Linked DNA regions of Homo sapiens. The protein of the gene in region 2 purifies or fractionates together with the protein of the main gene of each other region. This does not show direct contact. Each region holds a gene or a part of one and is shown on either strand. Other genes may lie near its edges. The genes, in order: MAT1A, GALK1, PYGB, GALM and SEMA4B.

The links.
Region 1: the proteins of GALK1 (region 2) and MAT1A fractionate together in Homo sapiens (co-fractionation; one large-scale study listed by BioGRID). This does not show direct contact.
Region 3: the proteins of GALK1 (region 2) and PYGB fractionate together in Homo sapiens (co-fractionation; one large-scale study listed by BioGRID). This does not show direct contact.
Region 4: the proteins of GALK1 (region 2) and GALM fractionate together in Homo sapiens (co-fractionation; one large-scale study listed by BioGRID). This does not show direct contact.
Region 5: the proteins of GALK1 (region 2) and SEMA4B fractionate together in Homo sapiens (co-fractionation; one large-scale study listed by BioGRID). This does not show direct contact.

Annotation. Positions count from the first base shown.
Region 1 is NC_000010.11:80,282,790-80,287,263, forward strand, and holds part of MAT1A (S-adenosylmethionine synthase), read right to left. Parts: intron 2,801-4,474; coding exon 2,723-2,800; intron 1,250-2,722; coding exon 1,127-1,249; intron 1-1,126. UniProt on the Homo sapiens protein: Catalyzes the formation of S-adenosylmethionine from methionine and ATP. The reaction comprises two steps that are both catalyzed by the same enzyme: formation of S-adenosylmethionine (AdoMet) and triphosphate, and subsequent hydrolysis of the triphosphate.
Region 2 is NC_000017.11:75,758,859-75,762,231, forward strand, and holds part of GALK1 (galactokinase), read right to left. Parts: intron 1-3,373. UniProt on the Homo sapiens protein: Catalyzes the transfer of a phosphate from ATP to alpha-D-galactose and participates in the first committed step in the catabolism of galactose.
Region 3 is NC_000020.11:25,295,047-25,298,734, reverse strand, and holds the end of PYGB (glycogen phosphorylase, brain form), read right to left. Parts: intron 3,132-3,688; coding exon 3,065-3,131; intron 2,366-3,064; coding exon 2,213-2,365; 3' UTR 723-2,212; downstream 1-722. UniProt on the Homo sapiens protein: Glycogen phosphorylase that regulates glycogen mobilization. Phosphorylase is an important allosteric enzyme in carbohydrate metabolism. Enzymes from different sources differ in their regulatory mechanisms and in their natural substrates.
Region 4 is NC_000002.12:38,664,282-38,669,512, forward strand, and holds the start of GALM (galactose mutarotase), read left to right. Parts: upstream 1-1,832; 5' UTR 1,833-1,880; coding exon 1,881-2,070; intron 2,071-5,231. UniProt on the Homo sapiens protein: Mutarotase that catalyzes the interconversion of beta-D-galactose and alpha-D-galactose during galactose metabolism.
Region 5 is NC_000015.10:90,214,577-90,219,050, forward strand, and holds part of SEMA4B (semaphorin-4B isoform 1 precursor), read left to right. Parts: intron 1-360; exon of another isoform or gene 361-388; intron 389-2,862; coding exon 2,863-3,026; intron 3,027-3,190; coding exon 3,191-3,253; intron 3,254-4,474. UniProt on the Homo sapiens protein: Inhibits axonal extension by providing local signals to specify territories inaccessible for growing axons.

The DNA.
Region 1 (4,474 bases), on a different chromosome or scaffold from region 2:
ACCATGAGTGGGCTCTCTCACTTACAAACGGGGGTCCAGCACCCTGACCCACAGGATGCTACACATCACCCTAGACAACGATTATGTGACACAGGCAGAAATGAACACCTTTAAAGTCATGCTTCTCTCTGTGCATCTTGATTACAGGTGTATAGCTAGGCAGGATGACCTGGAAGTGGGTCTTTTTGCCATGGCGTGAGGTCATCACATCTCTCACAGTGATTTCAGAGAATTAGGGAAAGAGCTAACAGAGACCCAAAATGAATTTTTCTTTAAAAATTAGAATTGCCTGAACATCTAATGCCAGAGACCAACGTGGAGACTCTAAGAATTGGGGCCAGAGCCCTGCCCAGGAAGCCAGCATGGACAAAGGGCCCCTGAAGCTCCTGCAGAATGTGATCGCATACAGGCCCTCCGCACCTGGTGTCTGCTCTCTGGGTCCTTTGCTGCCCTCCAGGCTGTGCCGCTGCCTGGCCTGCTCAGTCTCAGATGTTGGAATCTGCTTCAAAGTTCTGCTAGGGCCTGTGCCCCTTCCCTGGGTGGTGGCCCCACACTATGTAGCACTGGTGCTAACCTGGACCAGCCTCGCCTGCTGTCAGCACCAGTTCTGGACTGAGTCATCTTGCTCCATGTCTATGATTGCAAGTAGGTTTAGTGGAAGCACAGGAGTCCTCAGCCTAGTGGCTGCTTACCCTGTGATCTCACACAGACTGTTTACCCCTCTAGGCCTCCATTTCCTCGTCTGCATAAGTACATAAATGATTAAGACAACACAAGAGACTATCACCAGTGCCTGGCAGCGAGCATGTCCCCAAAGGAGGGCAGCCCCCTTTATTCAGTGCATCTTTCTCTTCCAAAGCCTTTGGCAGCGCCAAGAAGGCAAGGCCTAAAACAAGCCCAATCAACAACAGATGGGCATGTGCTGGGCCCACTGGGCATAGTCGCCTGTTGGCCATCCTTATGCCAGAGTCTTTGACCCCTGGAACCTGACAGACAAGTGTAGGAGTGTTTTCCTCCTGGTAGTATTGATGCTCCCATCGGGCTGAAAGGCACGGGTTTGACTCAGCACTGGGGTCTCTATCAGCAGAGAGCAACAGGGATTTCAGACCCGGAGGCCTGCCCTCACCCTTGGCTGAGTCATCGTAGCCGATGTGCTTGATGGTGTCCCTCACCACCCGCTGGTAGTCCACCATGGCCATTGAGGTGATCTCACCACACAGCAGCACCATGCCGGTCTTGCACACTGTCTCTGAAAGGGAGCGGGGAGCGAGGAGAGTTAGCAGCCAAGTGCCAGCAAAGGGAAGCTCACATTCCCAGACCTCTCACAGTGCAGACAGAAAAGACACAGGAGGGGCCTTACGAGGAATGGATTCCAGAAGGAAAATAGAAACGCCAATAAAAAGAAAAAATCCCAGCACCAAGCACTGAGCATCTTCCAATGCTGTCTTGGAAAGAGTCAGTCATAAGCTGTGATCCTGGACAACTTATTTAACCCCTCTAAGTCTCTGTTCCCTCATCTATTTAATAAAGCTATTTATAAGACTGCTATGTGGATTAAAGGGAGATGATGGTTGTATGTAGCTGTCATAAAGAAGGTAGTCCACACATGTGACCCCCCATCCCCCACATTGCTAAACCTCCACTGCAGGCTTTAGGGAGTGGGATCTGGACCAAAAAAAATCAAAGCAGGCCAACCTTCTCTCCAGATATTTACAAAGATATAAGGGTAGAATCTACCTTCAGAGGGGCATGAGTCCCTGTAGTATTCAATACAGGGCTGAGGATGCAACCAGAGAGGGAAGGATGGGTCTGTGCAGTGGACAAGACATGACAATGACAGTAAGGAGAGCAAGGCTCTGGTCTTCACACTGGGGCACCCTACCCCATGGCCTTGGCCAGGCCCTGATGCAGAGGGTACCGTGATCCTGTCTCTAAAATGAACAGGCTGGACCTGATCACCCTGGGGCCCCTCCAGACTCCAGAGTCCATGACTCTGCCACTGTGCCACAGGCTTCAAGCCAGGCAAAGGTTTTCCTGCCAAACAACTTATCCCACAAATAAAGGTGAAGATCTTCAGCCTACATGAGTCTTCAGACACAATAAATTATGCAGATGGGAGCCAGGGCTTCAGTACTTTAGTTTAACATTAATGTCTCTTAGGAAAGCCATTGATTTATTGAAAAACAATTGGTGAAGATGTTGCCTTCCTGTTGCTATTAAATGGGGGACACTAATTATTTTAAAACCTAAATCATACCACAAACTAGGAAAGAAAACAAGAGAAGAAGCCAGGTATCTGTGCAGCCAACAAAGGCTCCTACAATGAGGATGCAGCTTATAACCATCTAGGCAGCTACCTGTGTTTCAAGCTCTTGCATCCCGTCTGGAAGATTCACCTAAGAACTTTGAAAGACCTCCTTGTTCCCAATGAGATCAAGCATCAGAAAGGCCATGTGCTGGTCCAACCCTCTGCTATTTATGGTTGCTATGACATTTAACGTTAGATTCTTGCTAAAAATAATTATCTATTTGTTTCATGGTTAGAAATGTTTTTCCTCCCTGTTACTACACAGGGGAGGTCTCATAATTGAGAAATCTACTGCAGAGCAGAGGACATGGATTTTGGAACTGAGGAGTATGGCTCGTTTGTCTTATACCCATGATTAATTTCTCAGTCTAGCCCACTTAGGTCTCCAGCAGGGAGGGATCGGGTGTTTCTTACCACAGGCCACCTTGGCATTGGGGTCTTGCTTGAGATGGGCATCCAGCACTGCATCACTGATCTGGTCACAGATCTTATCTGGACAAGAGCAAATATGGGTCAGAATCACAAAAATATTCGGGATAACAAATTGAAATCTTAAAATAATTAGATATCGACTTTTCAGTTTACATATCAACTTATCTACCAGAGGGAAAACACTTTTTTTAAGTATAAGAAATTAGAAATACTTTGAAATTTTTATTTATTTCCATTCCTGCCTAATTTTGGATGACACGTATTATATAAAGTCATAGAATGCCCTAAAAAAGAAATACCTTTTTTTTTTTTTTGAGATGGAGTGTCAGTCTATCACCCAGGCTGGAGTGCAGTGGTGTGATCTCGGTTCACTGCAATCTCCACCTCCCGGGTTCAAGCAATCCTCCCACCTCAGCCTCCCAGGTAGCTAGGATTACAGGCTTGTGCTACCACGCCTGGCTAATTTGTTTTGTATTTTCAGTAGAGATGGCGTTTCACCATGTTGGCCAGGCTGGTCTTGAACTCCTGGTCTCAAGTGATCCGCCCACCTCAGCCTCTGAAAGTGCTGGGATTACAGGTGTTAGCCACTGCGCCCGGTCAAAATCAGCTCTTCTAGGAGTCTAACGCAACTCACACATAAACAAACACACACGCATTCTTCTAAATAAAAAATCTCTCATTCCTCATCATGTTCCCTTTAATTCTAACATCTACAAAAGTCCTGAAAATGAACTTAAAAATAGTTAAGAAGTCAATTTTACCTCTTTGCCAAGAGGTAAAATCAGACGGCTCAAACAGCTGCATTGCATGGCAGGTTCCACAAGATGCAATGCACCGTATATAAAACACCACACCCAAGTACATGACTCCACCCATAAGAATTCTACAAGATAACCCCTATACATCATTGTTGTTTTGCAGAATACTTCCATAAGCAGCTCTCAGATCTCCCACATGGTCACTCAGCCTCCCGAAAGCCAGGTGTCCTTAGAGCTGGGCTTGACCTCTTCAATTACTGTAGGACTGACAAGGGTTCAACATGAGCTGGAATTTGATTTTATTCTTCCACTATTTGCCTTAAAGACTCTGCAGGGTCTAAAATGTAAAGCACTAAATGGTGCTTGTAGGAAAATCTACTCTTGCTTTGGGGTTATGCAAACTGTCAATATCTACAAATTAAGAAATAAAAGTGATCTCTATCTACATATATTATAGCTCATTCAGTGTTAAAAATACCCACAGTCTGCTCTTAATAGAGTAATATGTTTTTGTTAAGAATCCAGATCCAGAATCAAGCAGTTTGGCTCTCAAAAGCAGATGTTAAATTCTGTAATTAAAGATATTCATTAATTCCTTAATCTTTCCTTTAGAAACTACTGCTAAACATATGTTTGAGGTTGTGTTTTGTTTGTTTGTTTGTTTGTTTAATCTAGCCTCCTGCCAGTGGCAGACCCTGGTAGTACCTTTAGGTTTGTCTGAGCCCTTAGCCTCTACACACTTCTACCACTGAAGGCCTCTCGCTGATAAAATATCCTAAAATAAATACATGCTGGCCACCTTAGGCTTACCCATCAGAGTTCCTAGAAGCTTGCTGACTGATCATTGATTGTGAATGTCTCTGCCTGTGCAGACACAGCTCACAGGCTCCCACTCTGCCTAGGGAAATCCAACAGGAGAAGGAACAAAGCTGGAGTCCAGCAGGGGCTTCCAGATAGCACCACACACAAGACAATG
Region 2 (3,373 bases):
GAGTGCTGCCCTCAAGAGGCCACCACAGAGCAGGAGGAGAAGAAGTTCTGCTGAGCCACATGGAGCCTCCAGGGCTGGGGCTCCAGAAGAGGGGGCAGAAGCAGCCAGGGACCAGCAGGCTGTCCCATCTGACTGGAGCTGAGGCTGGAGGGGTACCTGGGTCAGTACCAGTACTGACTCAGTGTACTGCGCCCGGCCAAACCCGCAGGTTTAAGGGGGAAGGTTGTTAGGGTAGGTGGCATGGCGGGATGGAGGGGCAAGTAGATTCAAAGGACTGAGAAATGAATGGGTGGGCGCGGTGGCTCACACCTGTAATCCCAGCACTTTGGGAAGCTGAGGCAGGCAGATTGCCTGAGGTCAGGAGCTCGAGACCAGCCTGGCCAACATGGCGAAACCCCGTCTCTACTAAAAATACAAAAGTTAGCCGGGCATCGTGGCAGGCGCCTGTAATCGCAGCTACTCAGGAGGCTGAGGCAGGAGAATTGCTTGAACCTGGGAGGCGGAGGTTGCAGTGAGTGGAGATCATGCCACTGCACTTCAGCCTGGGTGACAGAGTGAGGCTCCCTCTCAAAAAAAAAGAAAGAAAGAAAGAAAGAAATGAATGGAAATGAGACAGTGGGTGGTGTTTTAGGAGGGAAGAAAACTGAGCATGTCTTGGAGGCTGAGGGAAGGAGCCAGGCAGCCAGGCAGGGGATGGAAGGAGAGGGATTGCGCTTCTAGGGCAGGACTCTGGAGGAGGCAGGGTGAGCTGCTCCTATGCAGAAGGAGACCTGGAGGAGGGGCAAGGACAGGCTGGGGTGGGGAGGAGGGACCAACTTGTTCCAGTGTGAAAACCTTGGCCAAGGGCATCTGCACAGAGCAGGCAGGGCAGGTCTGAGCACTGCTCTGGAGAACGTGACACAGTTCACAAAGGAAAAGGACAGGGAGGTCCCTCGGAGCTGTCTAGTGTCCCTGAGATAGGCACACCTACACTGCCAGGAAGGAACAACTCAGTGTGGGCAGCACGGCCAGCCAGTCAAGAGCATGGGCCCTGGAGCTAATCTGTCCAGATGGGGTTCAGATCCCAGCACTGCCTCTCACTGTAGATTCCCCCATCAAAAATATGACAACTATGGTAGCAGAATGTGCTTTACAGAGTTTTGGAGGGAATTAAATGAGCTAATATTGATAATGACCTTAAAACTGTCCAATAGACTACCTTCCTGGCCATGTGTAGCAGGAGCCTTAAGGATACTTGTATCTTTTTTGTTTTGGAGACAGGATCTCACTTTGAGGCCCAGGCTGGAGTGCCATGGTGCAATCACAGCTCACTGCAGTCTCAACCTCCTGGGCTCAATTGATCCTCCCACCCCAGCCTCCTAAGTAGCTAGGACTACAGGCACACACCACCACACCTGGCTAATTTTTGTATTTCTTTAGAGATGGGGTTTTGCCATGTTGCCCAGGCTGGTCTCGAATTCCTGAGCTCAATGAATCTGCCCACCTTGGCCTCCTAAAGTGCTGGGATTACAGGCACAGACGTGAGCCACCGCACCCAGCCTACAATACTTGTGTCTCTTGACTCTGTAATCCTACTCCTAAGAATCCATTTCTAAGAAACTATTAAGAGAATGCAGATAGGCCAGGTGTAGTGGCTCACGCCTGTGCCTGTAATCCCAGCACTTTGGGAGGCCAAGGCAGGCGGATCACTTGAGGTCAGGAGTCCAAGACCAGCCTGGCCAATATAGTGAAACCCAGTGTCCACTAAAAATACAAAAAAAAAAAAAAATTAACTCGCTCTGGTGGCACACGCCTGTAGTCCCAGCCACTCCAGAGGCTGAGGCAGGAGAATTGCTTGAACCCTGAAGACGGAGGTTGCAGTGAGCCGAGATCACGCCACTGCGCTCCAGCCTGGGCTACAGAGCAAGACTCAGTCTCAAAGAAAAAAAAGAGAATGCAGATAAACCGGGTGCCTTTGGTTGCAGCTACCCAGGAGACTAGGTGAGAAGATTACTTGAGCCCAAGAGTTCAGGTCCAGCCTGGGCAACTTAGCAGAACCCATCTCTTTAAAAAATAAAAAAGATGGCCAGGCACAGTGGTTCATGCCTGTCATCCCAGTACTTTGGGAGGCTGAGGTGGGCAGATCACCAGGTCAGGAGTTCACGACCAGCCCGACCAACATGGTAAAACCTCATCTCTACTAAAAATACAAAAATTAGCCAGGTGTGGTGGCACATGCCTCTAATCCTAGCTACTCAGGAGGCTGAGGCAGGAGAATCACTTGAACCTGGGAGGCAGAGGTTGCAGTGAGCCGAGATCGTGCCACTGCACTGCAGCCTGGGTGACAGAGCAAGACTCTGTCTCAAATAAATAAATAAATAAATAATAAAAAAGATAAATAAAAAAAGTTAATCACAGTGTGAGGTGTATCAGAAAATAGTTAAGTAAATGACAGAGCACCTGAATGCTAAAATATTGTGGAGCTTTAAAGAGCCACACGGAGGCCAGGTGCAGTGGCTCACACATGTAATCCTAGCACATTGGGAGGCTGAGGCGGGCAGATCACGAGATCAGGAGTTCGAGACCAGCCTGGCCAACATGAAACCCCGTCTCTACTAAAAATATAAAAATTGGCTGGGCGTGGTGGTGGGTGCCAGTAATCCCAGCTACTCAGGAAGCTAAGGCAGGAGAATCATTTGAACCCAGGAGGTGGAGGATGCAGTGAGCCGAGATTGCGCCACTGCACTCCAGCCTGGGCAACAGGGCAAGCCTCCACCTCACCAAAAAAAAAAGAAAAAAAAAAAAAAAGAGCCACACCGAGATATGCCTTTCATGGCATAAGATAAGATAGGGTTCTGGGTTCTGAGATTATGTTTAGTTTAAAAAAAAAAAAAAAAGAGACCGGCACTATGGCTCACGCCTGTAATCCCAGCACTTTGGAAGGCTGAGGCGGGAGGATCACCTGAGGTCAGGCGTTTGAGACCAGCCTGGCCAACATGGTGAAACCCCAGTCTCTACTAGAACTATAAAAAATGTGCCAGGCGTAGTGGCGGGCGCCTGTAGTCCCAGCTACTCGGGAGGCTGAGGCAGGAGAATCACTTGAACCCGGGAGGCAGAGGTTACAGTGAGCTGAGATCGCACCATTGCACTCCAGCATGGGTGACAAGACCGAAACTCTGTGTCCAAAAAAAAAACACGGCAAATGGGCTGGGCGCAGTGGCTCATGCCTATAATCCCAACACTTTGGGAGGCCAAGGCAGGAGGACCACTTGAGGCCAGAGTTCAGGATCAGCCTGGGCAACACTGCAAGACCGTCTTTACAAAGATAAAAATTAGCCGGGCATGGTGGCACACCTGTAATCTCAGCTACTTGGAAGGCTGAGCTGGGAGGATC
Region 3 (3,688 bases), on a different chromosome or scaffold from region 2:
GTACAATTGATGGGCGATGCTTTGGTCCCCAGGGCCAGGAGTGGGAGACAAAAGTTGCAGGTGCAAAGGGACCAGCACAAGTCACACCAGAAAGGTGTGTGTGTTTCTTATCCCCAGATAGCATGTTTAGTAATGGCTGGATTTGATTGATTGATAGAATTTTTAGAAAATAGCTAGCTTGGCCAGGAACAGTGGTTCACAACTGTAATCTCAGCACTTTCGGAGGCTGAGGCGGGCGGATCACCTGAGGTCAGGAGTTTGAGACCAGCCTGGCCAACATGGCAAAACTAAAAATACACAAATTAGCCGGGTGTGGTGGTGGGCGCCTGTAATGCCAGCTACTCGGGAGGCTGAGGCAGGAGAATTGCTTGAACCCAGGAGGCGGAGGTTGCAGCGAGCCAAGACCGTGCCACTGCACTCCAGCCTGGGCAACAAAAGCAAAACTCCATCTCAAAAACAAAAAAACAAAACTAGCCGTTCAGGCACACATGACCCCGGGTTCCACACCTAGTGGAGATGCAAACTTTTCTGCCCTCAATCCCAGAATGATGGGGTGTAATTCAGCCCCGGCTCTAGTTTCAGACGGGGGACCTGTGGCCCACTTGCAGGTCTCATCCCTGCACTGGCACCACCCTGGGCCTCAGGCCTGTGTTCTCTGCTTCCCACAGTCTCATACCACCACCTGCAGTTAGTTAGTTAGTTAGTGAAACACAGACCCCATGTCAGCCAACCACAGCCACAAAGGTTTAATCAGTTTTTATCTCACAAGGCAGTAACAATGAGGGGCACAGTGGTGGTCAGGGTGGTGGCCCCAGTGGCCAACTAGGGGAGTATGGCCTCCTCCACAGAGCCGCTGCCTGGGGAAGATGCTGTCAGGGCACGACCACAGCCCAGCACTTGCCCCACTCAATAAAAGGCTGTAGTGCTCTGGTGGGCTGTGCACCGTGCGCAGATCCTCCTGGTGGGCACTGGAGGCCAGGGAGAAAAAGAGCCTCCCCGCAGCCCAGATCCAGCATGCAAGGTGCTAGATTTCTCGGCAATTCCACAGGGAAGGACAGTAGCCTGTTCCCTGCCCTCTCTCTTGGGCAATGGGAGGCAGGTTGCCAGCCTTGGGGAGGGGCAAGGCTGTGAGGGGCTCACCCCCACCTCCCAGTGCCAGGCCTGCTGTCCAAGCAGAGCACAAATGGGTTCCTCCGGGACCCCTGGTCCTTTTTCCAGACGAGGCTGTGGCACTGGTGGAAAGGGAGGGAGAATGGAGCCTGGCCCTTGTGTGTACAACAGGAAATGCACCTCAGGACACAGCAGGAGTCAGCGGGAGGGCACAGACCTGCCCCCTGCCAGGCAGAAAATGGGCCTCCTCAAGCACAAAAGTGACCAAGTACAATTTTCAGTTGCTAAAACAAGAAAAGGCTTCAGCTAGTTTCATTTCCATGTGTAGTTATTTTCTCTTTTGAATAAGCAAAACCAAGCTAAGCTGTGTCAGCCAACTTCATCCTGACCAAGGCCTCTGAGACAGCAGACACAAGCACCCACTCCAGTGTCCCCCTCAGTCATCCCGGGTTCCAAGCACCCACACAATGCCCATTGGATGGCTACAAAGGGAAAGCCCCATCTGGGTCCATGACCCATATACCAGGTGCAGAGCCAGGACAGAGGGCAGGGGGCAGGGGGCTGTGAAGGCGATGCCTAGAGGATCCGACCCCTCCCGGCATGGCCAGGAGGCAGGGCTGGGCAGGATGACTGGGGCTACATGGGGCTTGGCCCTTCCCTGTGGCTGGCAGCCCAGATGCTGCAGTAACACTCATTCCCAGGCTTCACTATGGCCACTGGCCCAGACCCCAGAATCCAGAGGCTCAACACTAAAGACATCGGCTAATACATAGCAAGATGTGTGCAAAGTTCTGGGGGAGCCCAGCAGGTGGCTCCACCTGACTCCCACTCTGGGTGGGGCAGGTGCTGAAGCTGCAGGGCTGGCCACGACCCTTTGTACTGTCAACTCTGGCTTCCTTTACAAGAAACTAGGAGCACTTCTAGCACATTCCTTCCTTACCCTGCTCTCTCAAAACCACCCTGACCCCCATGGCCCCTCCTGGAAACATGGTACTCAGAAAAGCAGGGACCACCAGTGGCTGGCAAAGTGTTTGGGGAAAAAAGGAGGTGCAAAGTCAGCAAGAAAACAAATGCCCGCTGGTCCCGCCAAGGCAGGGTGTGCCTAGTCCCGGGGGATGTTGGGGGGCGGGATCTGCAGGTCGGAGGGCTCCACACCCCAGATCTCCCGTGCATACTCCGTGATGGTCCGGTCACTGGAGAACTTGCCCGAGCAGGCGATGTTCCTGATGACCTTCTTGGTCCACTCCTTGGGGTTCTGCAGGGAAGGAGATGAAATTAGTCTCTGGCGTCACAGGGCTTGGGGCTGCTAAAAACATGGGATTCCAGAACTTTAGGACTGTTTCCAAATGAGCTCCGAGCCTTGGGGCCATCCGCTGGAAGAGGAGGACATTACAATCACTTGTTCGTTGAAAAGGGGACCCCACGGACCAGGAAAGCTACCGCATTCTAGATCTAGGGAGCAAGGAGCTGGAGAGAAGGTCCCAGCCTCGAAAATTCCTGCTAGGGCATGGCCCCCAGGACGACGATAGGGATAGCACCAGGTAAGAACTGCCCAGGCAGATCCAGTGCCAGGGGACATGCCCAGGCAGTCTCCTTCCACCAGGGAGCCTCACAGCTGCCACAAGCTGCAGGTCACACCAGGCCAGCCTTTCCTCGAGGCCAGCCCTGACTGAGGGAAGAGAAGGTCCCTCCCAGGGCCCTGCCCGTCACTCAGTTTCCAGGCCGCACATTCCTTTCTTGGCCATTAGGAGCTGTTTTTTTCAACGGAGGGAGTGACATTGACAGTGACAGCTTCCCTAAAGGCAGGCACAGCCGACTGATGACAGATCAGAATCACAAACCCCTCTGGCCCAGGCCAAGAATCTACTCAGCTTGGGAAATAAACAATCTGACCCAACACGTCTACATGGACCCACCCAGCTGCTCCCCTAGCCTCTGGACCCAGGAGCCTCACCCGGTACAGCTGGTCCACCTGTGCCTGGCACTGCATGTAGGCTTCATAGTCTGCAAACACCTTGAACCTGGAATGGGAGAAAGGAGGCTGGGCCAGGGCAGCAGGGAGCCCTGCCCACACTGTCCCGAGGGGAGAGTCCCAGGGCAGGAGGCCAGGCACCATCCACCTGGTCCTGTCTGGAGCGAAGGGGCCCACCCACGCAGCTGGTCAGAGCCAGGCTGCACCAGGCCCATTTGGCCACAGGGCTTCTCTGTGAGCAACACTTATGTCCTGGGACAATATTTTAGAAAAACCTTATTTCAACCCAACACTCCTTTAAATAAACTGGCATTTAAAACGTGTCTTCCACACGCAGGGCAGTTAGAGCTGCACATGGGAGAGGCCTCCTGGGCAGACAGTGGAGAGCCCATGGCGCCGCCTCAGGGCAGGGGGCACTTGCTGGGGAACGGCATCTCCATTTGCCGTCTTAAGTCTAACTGGGATTTGCCTACACAGGAAATACTGACTTGCAGTTCCTGATGTGCTGAACAAAAATGCCAGATTTATGAATCTACAAATGCATTTCTGTTCACTATCGAGTCAGAAGCACACTTCACGAAATGCAGAGTTCACAATTTTAAAAGC
Region 4 (5,231 bases), on a different chromosome or scaffold from region 2:
AAGAAGCTGAGAGATAGTTATTATGTTTTATTAGCATCTGATTCCAGGCACATAATCCCAATTCTCATAATTTCCTAATCAAAGATGCATTTCATTTCTGCACTCACCCCAGTCTAGTTGGATACCCTCTGAAGTACCCAGGAACCAAGCCAAGAGCAGTATCAAGAAAAGATAGATGATTATGCAGATGGCTTGAGTAAAACTTGTCTTTAGGCTCCCAGCATCCTCCCACTTCCTAGGCTCAGTACTCCTCTAAAGTTGCCAGACTTAGCAAGGAAGTACATAGGTGCCTGTATGTTATCTCATTAAGGCCCTTAATAGCTTTATCTTAATCCTTCTGCCATCAGAGCCTATTTTTTTGGGGAAAAAAATTCAGATTACTCATCAAGCCTTAGAGCAATATTTCTCTAAATCTGGTCCCAGATAATCTGCAGAAGAATAACTTGGGAACATGAAAAATGCAGATTCCTGAGTTTCACCCTAGACTTCCAGAATTAGAAATTCCAGAGGTGGGGACTGGGAATATGCATTTTAAATGTCCTCAGCAAATTCTGAGACACAATCAAGCAAGACAATTATTTAATAACCTTAGTGTCTTTCCTCTCCAACTGTACATACCTGAAGACTCCATCCTACTTGTAGAAAAGGAGATAACAAAGGTTCAGTACCTGGCATTTACAAGGACCTCAATCAATACTTGTTCCCTGAATCCCTTCTTAAAGGAACTGTGGACTTCAGGAGCCAGAAGACACCAGAGGTCCCTTTCCAGTCCCTTGAAGTAAAATAAGTCTGAGGCTGTCTCTAATCACCTCCGCACACCGAGGGCCTAATCCATCTACCTGACCCTGTCTGGTCCAAGCTCCTCGAGGCTGGCACAGCTTTGGCCGTCAGGAGAGCCTTCTGGGCAGTGGCTCTAACAGAACCATGTCCAGGACTTCATCCGTGGGACAAAAAGAGTGAATCTTCAGTAAGTCTGTGTGCAGAGAAGCCTGAGATGATTTACCTCATTTCTAAGCTACTACTGTACTTTGTTGTTGTTGTTGTTGTTGTTTTGAGACGGAGTCTCGCTCTGTCACTCAGGCTGGAGTGCAGTGGCGTGATCTCGGCTCACTGCAAGCTCCGCCTCACGGGTTCACGCCATTCTCCTGCCTCAGCCTCCCGAGTAGCTGGGACTACAGGCCCCCACCACCACTCCCAGCTAATTTTTTTTTTTTTTTTTTTTTTTTTTTTTTTTTGTATTTTTAGTAGAGGCGGGGTTTCACCGTGTTAGCCAGGAAGGTCTCAATCTCCTGACCTCGTGATCCGCCTGCCTCGGTCTCCCAAAGTGCTGGGATTACAGGCGTGAGCCACCGAGCCGGCCAACTACTGCTGTACTTCTTACCCCCTGTATCAAAGAGTTAAAATCTAATTTTTTCCCAAGATCGGTCTCACTGTAAGTCTGCTATCTGTATTTTCCCATTCTTCGTCTGATAGCCACCGACATTAATGACCAGCTCATTACATGTTGAGGTGTGGGGAGATGGGGGTAGAACCCCGTCAACCCAGGATTCGAGTTTAGAAAGACTACAAGCCCCAAAATGCAATTTCACCTCCCAAAAACTACCATTCCCAACATGCAATGCAACCAGGACGAGCCAAGGAAAAAAAGTACAAGTGTGGCTGCAAAGTTTGCCCCTCTTGTTACCCTCAGGCAAATGATTGATTTAGAAAGGCCCCAGGGGCTATTTTTTGCAGGAACGGTCACTCCCTAAATCCAGGCAGGGAAAGGGAGGAGTCTGAGCCGAGTCACGCCCCTTCTCCTGTAAACTTGGGTCGCCTCTAGCTTAGCGAGCGCTGGAGTTTGAAGAGCGGGCAGTGGCTGCACACGCCAAACTTTCCCTATGGCTTCGGTGACCAGGGCCGTGTTTGGAGAGCTGCCCTCGGGAGGAGGGACAGTGGAGAAGTTCCAGCTGCAGTCAGACCTCTTGAGAGTGGACATCATCTCCTGGGGCTGCACGATCACAGCCCTAGAGGTCAAAGACAGGCAGGGGAGAGCCTCGGACGTGGTGCTTGGCTTCGCCGAGTTGGAAGGTGGGTTGAACTGTGCCCTGGGCTGCGAGCAGGCCCCAGGCCCACGCTACATACCTCCCGGATCTAGCGGGCCACTTGCAATGCGAGGGACCAAGGGGGAAAGTCGCCTAGCTTGGGACCGTCTGACTTGCAAGCGCATGCATCATAGAGGGCCGTGTGGCCATCCAGCATTTGGGAAAAACTGTAATAAATAAACTATGGCAGTTGGCCTCTGGTTATCCGTTCAGGCTTTGCCCCAGTTAACGTAAAAGGTCAGCTGATGGTATGATACACTTCAGCGATCCTGGAGCGATCTTTGAACTGCCTAATCTTTGAACTGCCTGATACCTGGAGAAGGCTGGAGAGGAAAGAGCAGGCAAGAGGGGGTGTGGCTCCCACTTCTTCCCTTCTGAAGAAGGAAATTCAAATACTTGCCTCTTCTACTTCCTTCTTCCTTGATCAGATTCTCTTTGAGGCCTGGTTGTCTCAGAAATGCTCCACTAAGCTCAGTGGTTGCCTAGTACACCAGCTACCCAATAACCATTTAGGAACAAAATAGAGAAGACCAACTCAGTGTCTTCTCAGAGATCAGGTCTCCTACCAACTAGGATGGACTTTTATCCCAGAATCCATGGGCAATTAGGATCAGGCATTAATTAATACATTTGACAACTCTATTAATCCGATGACCTCATTAAACAGGACAGACAAGGTCCCCACTCTTGCGGTTTGGCTGGGGAGATAGACTTTAACTCAGTAATTGCATAAATAAAGAATGACAATTGCAGCTTGATTGCAGCAAAGGAAAATGTACATCATGCTCTCTTAGCACCATGGTGTAACTAGACAGAAAATGAGGTGTGAAATAAAGCTGGCAAAGGGAAACTGAGAGTTAATACTCTCTGCTCAGTGGTTGGGGCGTAGACAAATTCTGCTGGAGAGGAGGTTTGAGGTTTTCCTTTTGGTGTGTCATTCTGTCTGTTTGGTTCTTCCGATACGTAAGATATGTAACTTGGCTCATGGTTACATGTTGGCCAGACCAGCCTGGCCAGCATGGTGAAACCCTGTCTCTACTAAAAATACAAAAAAATTAGCTGAGCATGGTGGCACGTGCCTGTAATCCCAGCTAGTCAGGAGGCTGAGGCAGGAGAATAGCTTGAACCCAGGAGGCGGAGGTTGCAGTGAGCCAAGATTGCGCCACTGCACTCCAGCGTGGGTGGCAGAGCGAAACTCTATCTTAAAAAACAGAGAGCAAATTTCAATTCCTCAGGGAAAAAAACAAAACTCAGCTTTCTGTTGAACACCACCATGCCCGGCTAATTTTTTTGTGTTTTTGGTAGAGATGGGGTTTCACCATGTTGGCCAGGCTGCTGGCGGGCACCTGTAATCCCAGCTACTTGGGAGGCTGAGGCAGGAGAATCACTTGAATCTGGGAGGCGGAAGTTGCAGTGAGCCGAGATTGCGCCACTGCACTCCAGCCTGGGCGACAGAGTGAGACCCCATCTCAAAAAAATAAAAATATACTCTAACCTTTCCCTCTGCCTTTCTGTGTAACAGCTGACCATAAAGAAATTAAGACCCTCATTCCAGAGGGGTCCTGCCCCATACCCGGAGGAAGAAATGCTGCATGGGGAGGCCAAGAAAAATCTGAACACAGGCCTTGCCGAGTTTCCCCACTCACTCTATTAGCAACAGATCTTACCCTTTTGGTCCAATCATATTTCTACATGGCTGTCCATGTTCCATTGGACCTAAGCATAGAAATGGATTGTTTTCCTTGTATCTGTCGGTCTTCATTCTGAAAGCTCCCGTGTCACATAAAACTATAATCAAATAAATTTGTTTGGCTTTTTTATGTATTTTTTATTTTTTAGAGGTGGAGTCTCGCTCTGTCACCCAGGCTAGAGTGGAGTAGTGCAATTATAGCTGACTTGCAGCCTCGAACTACTGGCCTCAAGCAATCCTCCCACTTCAGCCTCCCAAAGTGCTGGGATTACAGACATGAGCCACTGTGCCCAGCTGTTTTGCTTTTCTCTTGTTACCCTGTGTTTGTTGTAGAGGTGTGGGCTGTGACTCTTACAGGGGAGATATACAACACTCTGTTACTATTTTGATGGTGCTCTGATACTACATTTCTAGTGCATTAAAACCTATGTTAACAATAAACTGGTAACAGTGGTTGTTAAGAAAGGATCCTGGGTGCCCAGGGTGCAGAGGATGGGAAGGAGACTTAATTTTCACTGCATATTCTTTTAAACCATCAGAGTATGTAAGTATATATAAACAAACAGAGGTAAATAATTTAAAGTAATAAGACTTGACAGAGGCCGGCATGGTGGCTCACACCTGTAATCCTAGGAGTCCAAAGTGGGAGGATCGCTTGAGGCCAGGAGTTTGAGACCAGCCTGAGCAACATAGTGAGACCCTGTCTCTAAAATAAATAAAAATAAATAAATAAATAAATAAATTTAAATTTAAAAAAAATTTTTTTAAATACTTGACAGAATAAGGGGTTATCTTGACATTACCATATCCCAAAAATGGTTTTGAGCCATGCGGAAGATCTGAGCGTGGATAATTCCATGAGACATGGTCCTTTTGTAACTGCAGAGTTAGATATGAACAATCTTCAATTTCCCAGACAGGTTATATAAACTGTTTGGATGACAGCCATAACCAGAGGTCAGAATGGTTCAGTTTCTCCCTGGGAAAATGGGATTTTTTTCTTTCATAGAATTCTAAAGAAGAAAATTATATAAATTTTTAGTTACAGTAAGAGAGGAGACCACCCCTCATATTGCCTTATGCCCAATTTCTGCCTCCAAAGAAAGAAGTAAAAACTAAAAGGCAGAAACGAAATCCACAGGCAGACAGCCCGGCACTACGCCATGGGCCTGGTAGTTAAAGATCGACCCCTGACCTAACCAGTTATGTTATCTATAGATTCCAGACATTTTATAGAAAAGCAGTGTGAAAATCCCTGTCCTGTTGTGTTCTGTTCTGATTACCGGTGCATGCAGCCCCCAGTCAGGTACCCCTGGCTTGCTCAATCGATCACGACCCTCTCACGCAGACCCCCTTAGAGTCGTAAGCCCTTAAAAGGGACGGGAATTGCTCACGCGGTGAGCTCGGCTTTTGAGACGCAAGTCTGCCTTCTTCAATCCGGTGTCTAAGGAGTTTTG
Region 5 (4,474 bases), on a different chromosome or scaffold from region 2:
GAGCCAAGATTGTGCTATTGCACTCCAGCCTGGGCAACAACAGCAAAACACCATCTCAAAAAAAAAAAAAAAAAAAAAGGCTGAGCTTCCCCCAAATGGCTGATATGTGTTCCTCCTTATGGACATTGAGGATGGAGTAGCTTCATTTCCCATTTTTCTTTGGCCACCAGGAGGCCCAGCACTAAAGGCTCAGCCCTTCTCTACCAGCTGTGCGAAGACTCATTGACCTACTCGTGAATTTTTACTTCCTTGCTGATGGAGATGTTTTTCTTCAGATTTGGGTTTTCTCTGCTCCTGATTTTAATGTTTATATTTCACTACTTTCTTTTCTTCATGTCTCCCCACCCTTTATGGAACCAGGCTGGGGGTATGTAAAAACACTCCACAGGTAAACACACATGAAGTCATCTTCACAGCTGCTTGATTGGGCGTGTTGCACTTTTTGCTTCCTCAGCTTCGTGAGACTGTTTGTGTGGTCATAACCCACTGGTCCGCTACAACGTGCCTGAGGGTGGTCAGGGTGCTGCTCTTTGCTTGTTTTTGTGTTCTCATCAGCTGCTTAGAATTTTAAAAATAATTTCTCTCCAAACCCTTTAGTTACCCAAAGCATAAACAGTACCCTGGTGGGTAAGTGTGTGTGTGTTTCTTTTTTTTTTTCTTTGATTTATATATTTCACATTATATAAGGATAACCTGCTTATTAGAGAATCTAAAAATGATAACAAGTAAAAAAGAAAAGAAAGCTACCTGTAATTCTACCAGGGAGCCCATGTTTTAGTGTTTTGTGATACATCCTTCTGGATTTTTTTCCTATGCTTATATTTTTCCCACAAAAAATAGAATTTGACCATACATACTAAATATAACCTGAATTTTCACTTCATGGTAGATAATTCGTGTCTTTCCTTGTTGTTATTCTGCAAAAACAAAAGCTACTTAAAATGTGTACCAAGGTCTGGGCGCAGTGGCCCACACCTGTAATCCCAGCACTTCGGGAGGCTGAGGCAGGCGGATTGCTTGAAGCCAGGAGTTCGAGACCAGCCTGGCCAACATGGCAAAACCCTGTCTCTACTAAAAATACAAAAGTTAGCCGGGCATGGTGGCACATGCCTGTAATCCCAGCTACTCGGGAGGCTGAGGCAGAAGAATTGCTCGAACCTGGAAGGCGGAGGTTGCGGTGAGCCGAGATCATGCCAGTGCACTCCTGCCTGGGCAACAGAGTGAGACTCAGTCTCAAAAAATAAATAAAATTTGTATCAAGGATACATGCACGTATATATATATTTTTAAGTATAGAAGGGCTTATTATAAAAAGCAAAAACGTCTGTCCTCCCTCACCCCAGGCCAATTTAAAAGGGACTTTTAATCATTTAGGGTTCTTAGGGTTCTTGTTCTACCATTATTTCCTCCATTTTTTTTTTTTCTTTTTGAGATGGAGTTTCACTCTTGTTGCCCAGGCTGGAGTGCAATGGTGTGATCTCAGCTCACCGCAACCTCTGCATCCCAGGTTCAAGCGATTCTCCTGCCTCAGCCTCCCGAGTAGCTGGGATTACAGGCATGTGCTACTACGCCTGGCTAATTTTATATTTTTAGTAGAGACGGGATCTCTCCATGTTGGTCAGGCTGGTCTCGAACTCAGGTGATCCACACCAAAGTGCTGGGATTATAGGTGTGAGCCACCACGCCCAGCCCATTTCCTCCATATTTTTAAGTAAAATACTTACACCACTATTTCTTGGCTTATTTGAATTCCTAACTTTCCCTCACTTACATCTCCCTTCCATTCCTCCCCCCAACATATTCTGTCACCGTACTGTATTCACTTCCTTTATTGGTTACCTTTGCAATATAAAACAGTACACTTGACCTGTATTTATTATTCCATTAGCCATTGGCAGCAGCTTGTGACAACCCTGCTACCATATTATGATGTCTGTCTGTCATCAGTTCTGGTTTCTGAGGTCAAAATTGAAAACACTCCCATTCTGTGTAATAACCATCAGTCTCAAAGACCAGTGCTTTTTTGGGAGGCTGACGCGGGCAGATCACTTGAGTTCAGGAGTTTGAGACCAGCCTGGCCAACATGGTGAAACCCCGTCTCTACTAAAAATACAAAAATTAGCTGGGTGTGATGGTGCATGCCTGTAATACCAGCTACTTGGGAGGCCGAGGCAGGAGAATCACTTGAACCTAGGAGGTGGAGGTTGCAGTGAGCCAAGATCATGCCACTGCACTCCAGCCTGGGCAACAGAGCGAGACTTCGTCTCAAAAAAAAAAGAAAAGCCCATGCTCAACATTTGCATTACTCTGTCAATGCAAATAGCATTCACTGCAGGGCCCACTTAACATTTCCTTCTCTTTGGGTCTAATGTCACTCAAAGGAAAGTGTTAAATGTATTTTCCTTTCTTAATATTCTATTATGTGCTCAAAACTCATCACTTTATATTTTAGTTTGCTTGATATTTTGACCATGCCTTTCTTGCCTGTTTTTCTGGAGCTTCTAATACATCATTTTTTTTCCCAGCTGTATAGTATTCAGTTGGATTGAGGCATCATAATTTATTTTGACAAGGTCCCCTCTGGTTGGACGGACTCTTTGGTTTTCAGTTTTTTATTAATGTGAAGGGTGCCGTAGTAAGTATCCTTGTACATACATCTCTGCATCATTTCTTATGTAATGTTTGAGAGTCCAGGAATGCTGCTCGCCCATCAAACCTGATCCCCCTGCCCCCAGCCCCTTGCCATTGCCACCCTTTGCCTTGCTGATTACCTTCCTTTAAACCAGTCCATCTAAAGGTTGGTGTTAAGAGGCTTCCCATGGGAGGGGTGGCCCCAGGTAATACCCATCTTCCTCTCCCCAGGCTCTGAAGAGCGGCCATTCCTCAGATTCGAAGCTGAACACATCTCCAACTACACAGCCCTTCTGCTGAGCAGGGATGGCAGGACCCTGTACGTGGGTGCTCGAGAGGCCCTCTTTGCACTCAGTAGCAACCTCAGCTTCCTGCCAGGCGGGGAGTACCAGGAGGTGAGAGATGTTGCCTGGAGCTGGCTAGGCTGGGCAGAGGACCACAGAGGGAAGATGGACGGGAAGCTTGACCTTCTGGGTCCAAGGATGATGCCTATGGGAGAGGAGGGAGGCTCAGCAAACCCTCCATTTTGTCCACTACCTTCCCCTTTCTCATTCCCCAGCTGCTTTGGGGTGCAGACGCAGAGAAGAAACAGCAGTGCAGCTTCAAGGGCAAGGACCCACAGGTGAGCCCACACCTGGAAGGGAGCTGAGCTGCAGGAGGGATGGAGGGTGGTGGACTTCCATCCAGGCCAGAGGCGGGAGGTGGGAGCAGATACAGCCAGGTATGGTGGGAAGGGCATAAGCTTCTGAGATTACCCGGCCTGGGTTTGAATCCCAGCACTACACTTACATCGCTACGACCTTCGACAAGTAGATTCACCTGTCTAAGCCTTAGTGGGCCCACCTGTAAAATGGGGATAATGATCCGGTCTCACTGGGCTTACAGTGAGGATTCAGGAAGCTAATAGGTGTAAGGCACCTGGCTCATAGATACAAGACCTAACAAGTCAGCTTCCAGCGTGAACAGAGATTGGGTGGGGTGAGAGTTGTGTCCCTCTGCAGATGGTTCCTGATGTAGCACATCTGACAGATTCTGGTGTGGTTTTGGCCAAAGCACAGGATGAAATCTGGTTCAACCCAGGTTCTCCTGGAGGACTCATCATCATCCCTAGAGGCCTCCTGCTCCTGCTCCTAAGTGCAGCAGGTGCTGGGTAAGGTGAGGGCAAACGAGTGCTGGACTTGGGATCAAGACACAGGTTCAAGTCCTGGCTGCCATTCTGTTATTCAGCTAACATTGATGAAGCATGCACTCTGTGTCCATGTACTTTTAGGTACTGGAGATTTAATTGTGAAAAAGCAGGCTTGGCACAGTGGCTCACGCCTGTAATCCCAGCACTTCGGGAGGCTGAGGCAGGTGGATCACAAGGTCTCCACCTCATGGTCTCCTGAGTGTCTCAGGAGTTCGAGACCAGCCAGGCCAACATAGTGAAACTCCGTCTCTACTAAAAATACAAAAAACATTAGCCAGGCATGGTGGCAGGCGCCTGTAGCCCCAGCTACCTGGGAGGCTGAAGCAGGAGAATCGCTTGAACCTGGGAGGCAGAGGTTGCAGTGAGCCGAGATCTCGCCACTGCACTCCAGCCTGGATGACAGAATGAGACTGTGTTTCAAAAGAAAAAGTAGTCAGTTTACAAATGTTATTGGCGGGGCGTGGGATGGAATGAGGTGGTCAGGTAACATTTCATTAAAAAAGTGACATTTGAGCCAAGATCAGGAGAGAGTGAGGAGCTGACAGTGGCATATCTGGAGGAGGGGCAGGACTTTTGATTTCACTCTGAGGGAGGTATTTGGGAGGCCAGGGGAAGGCTGAGCAGAGATGTGACATGGTCTCACCTGTGTACTAA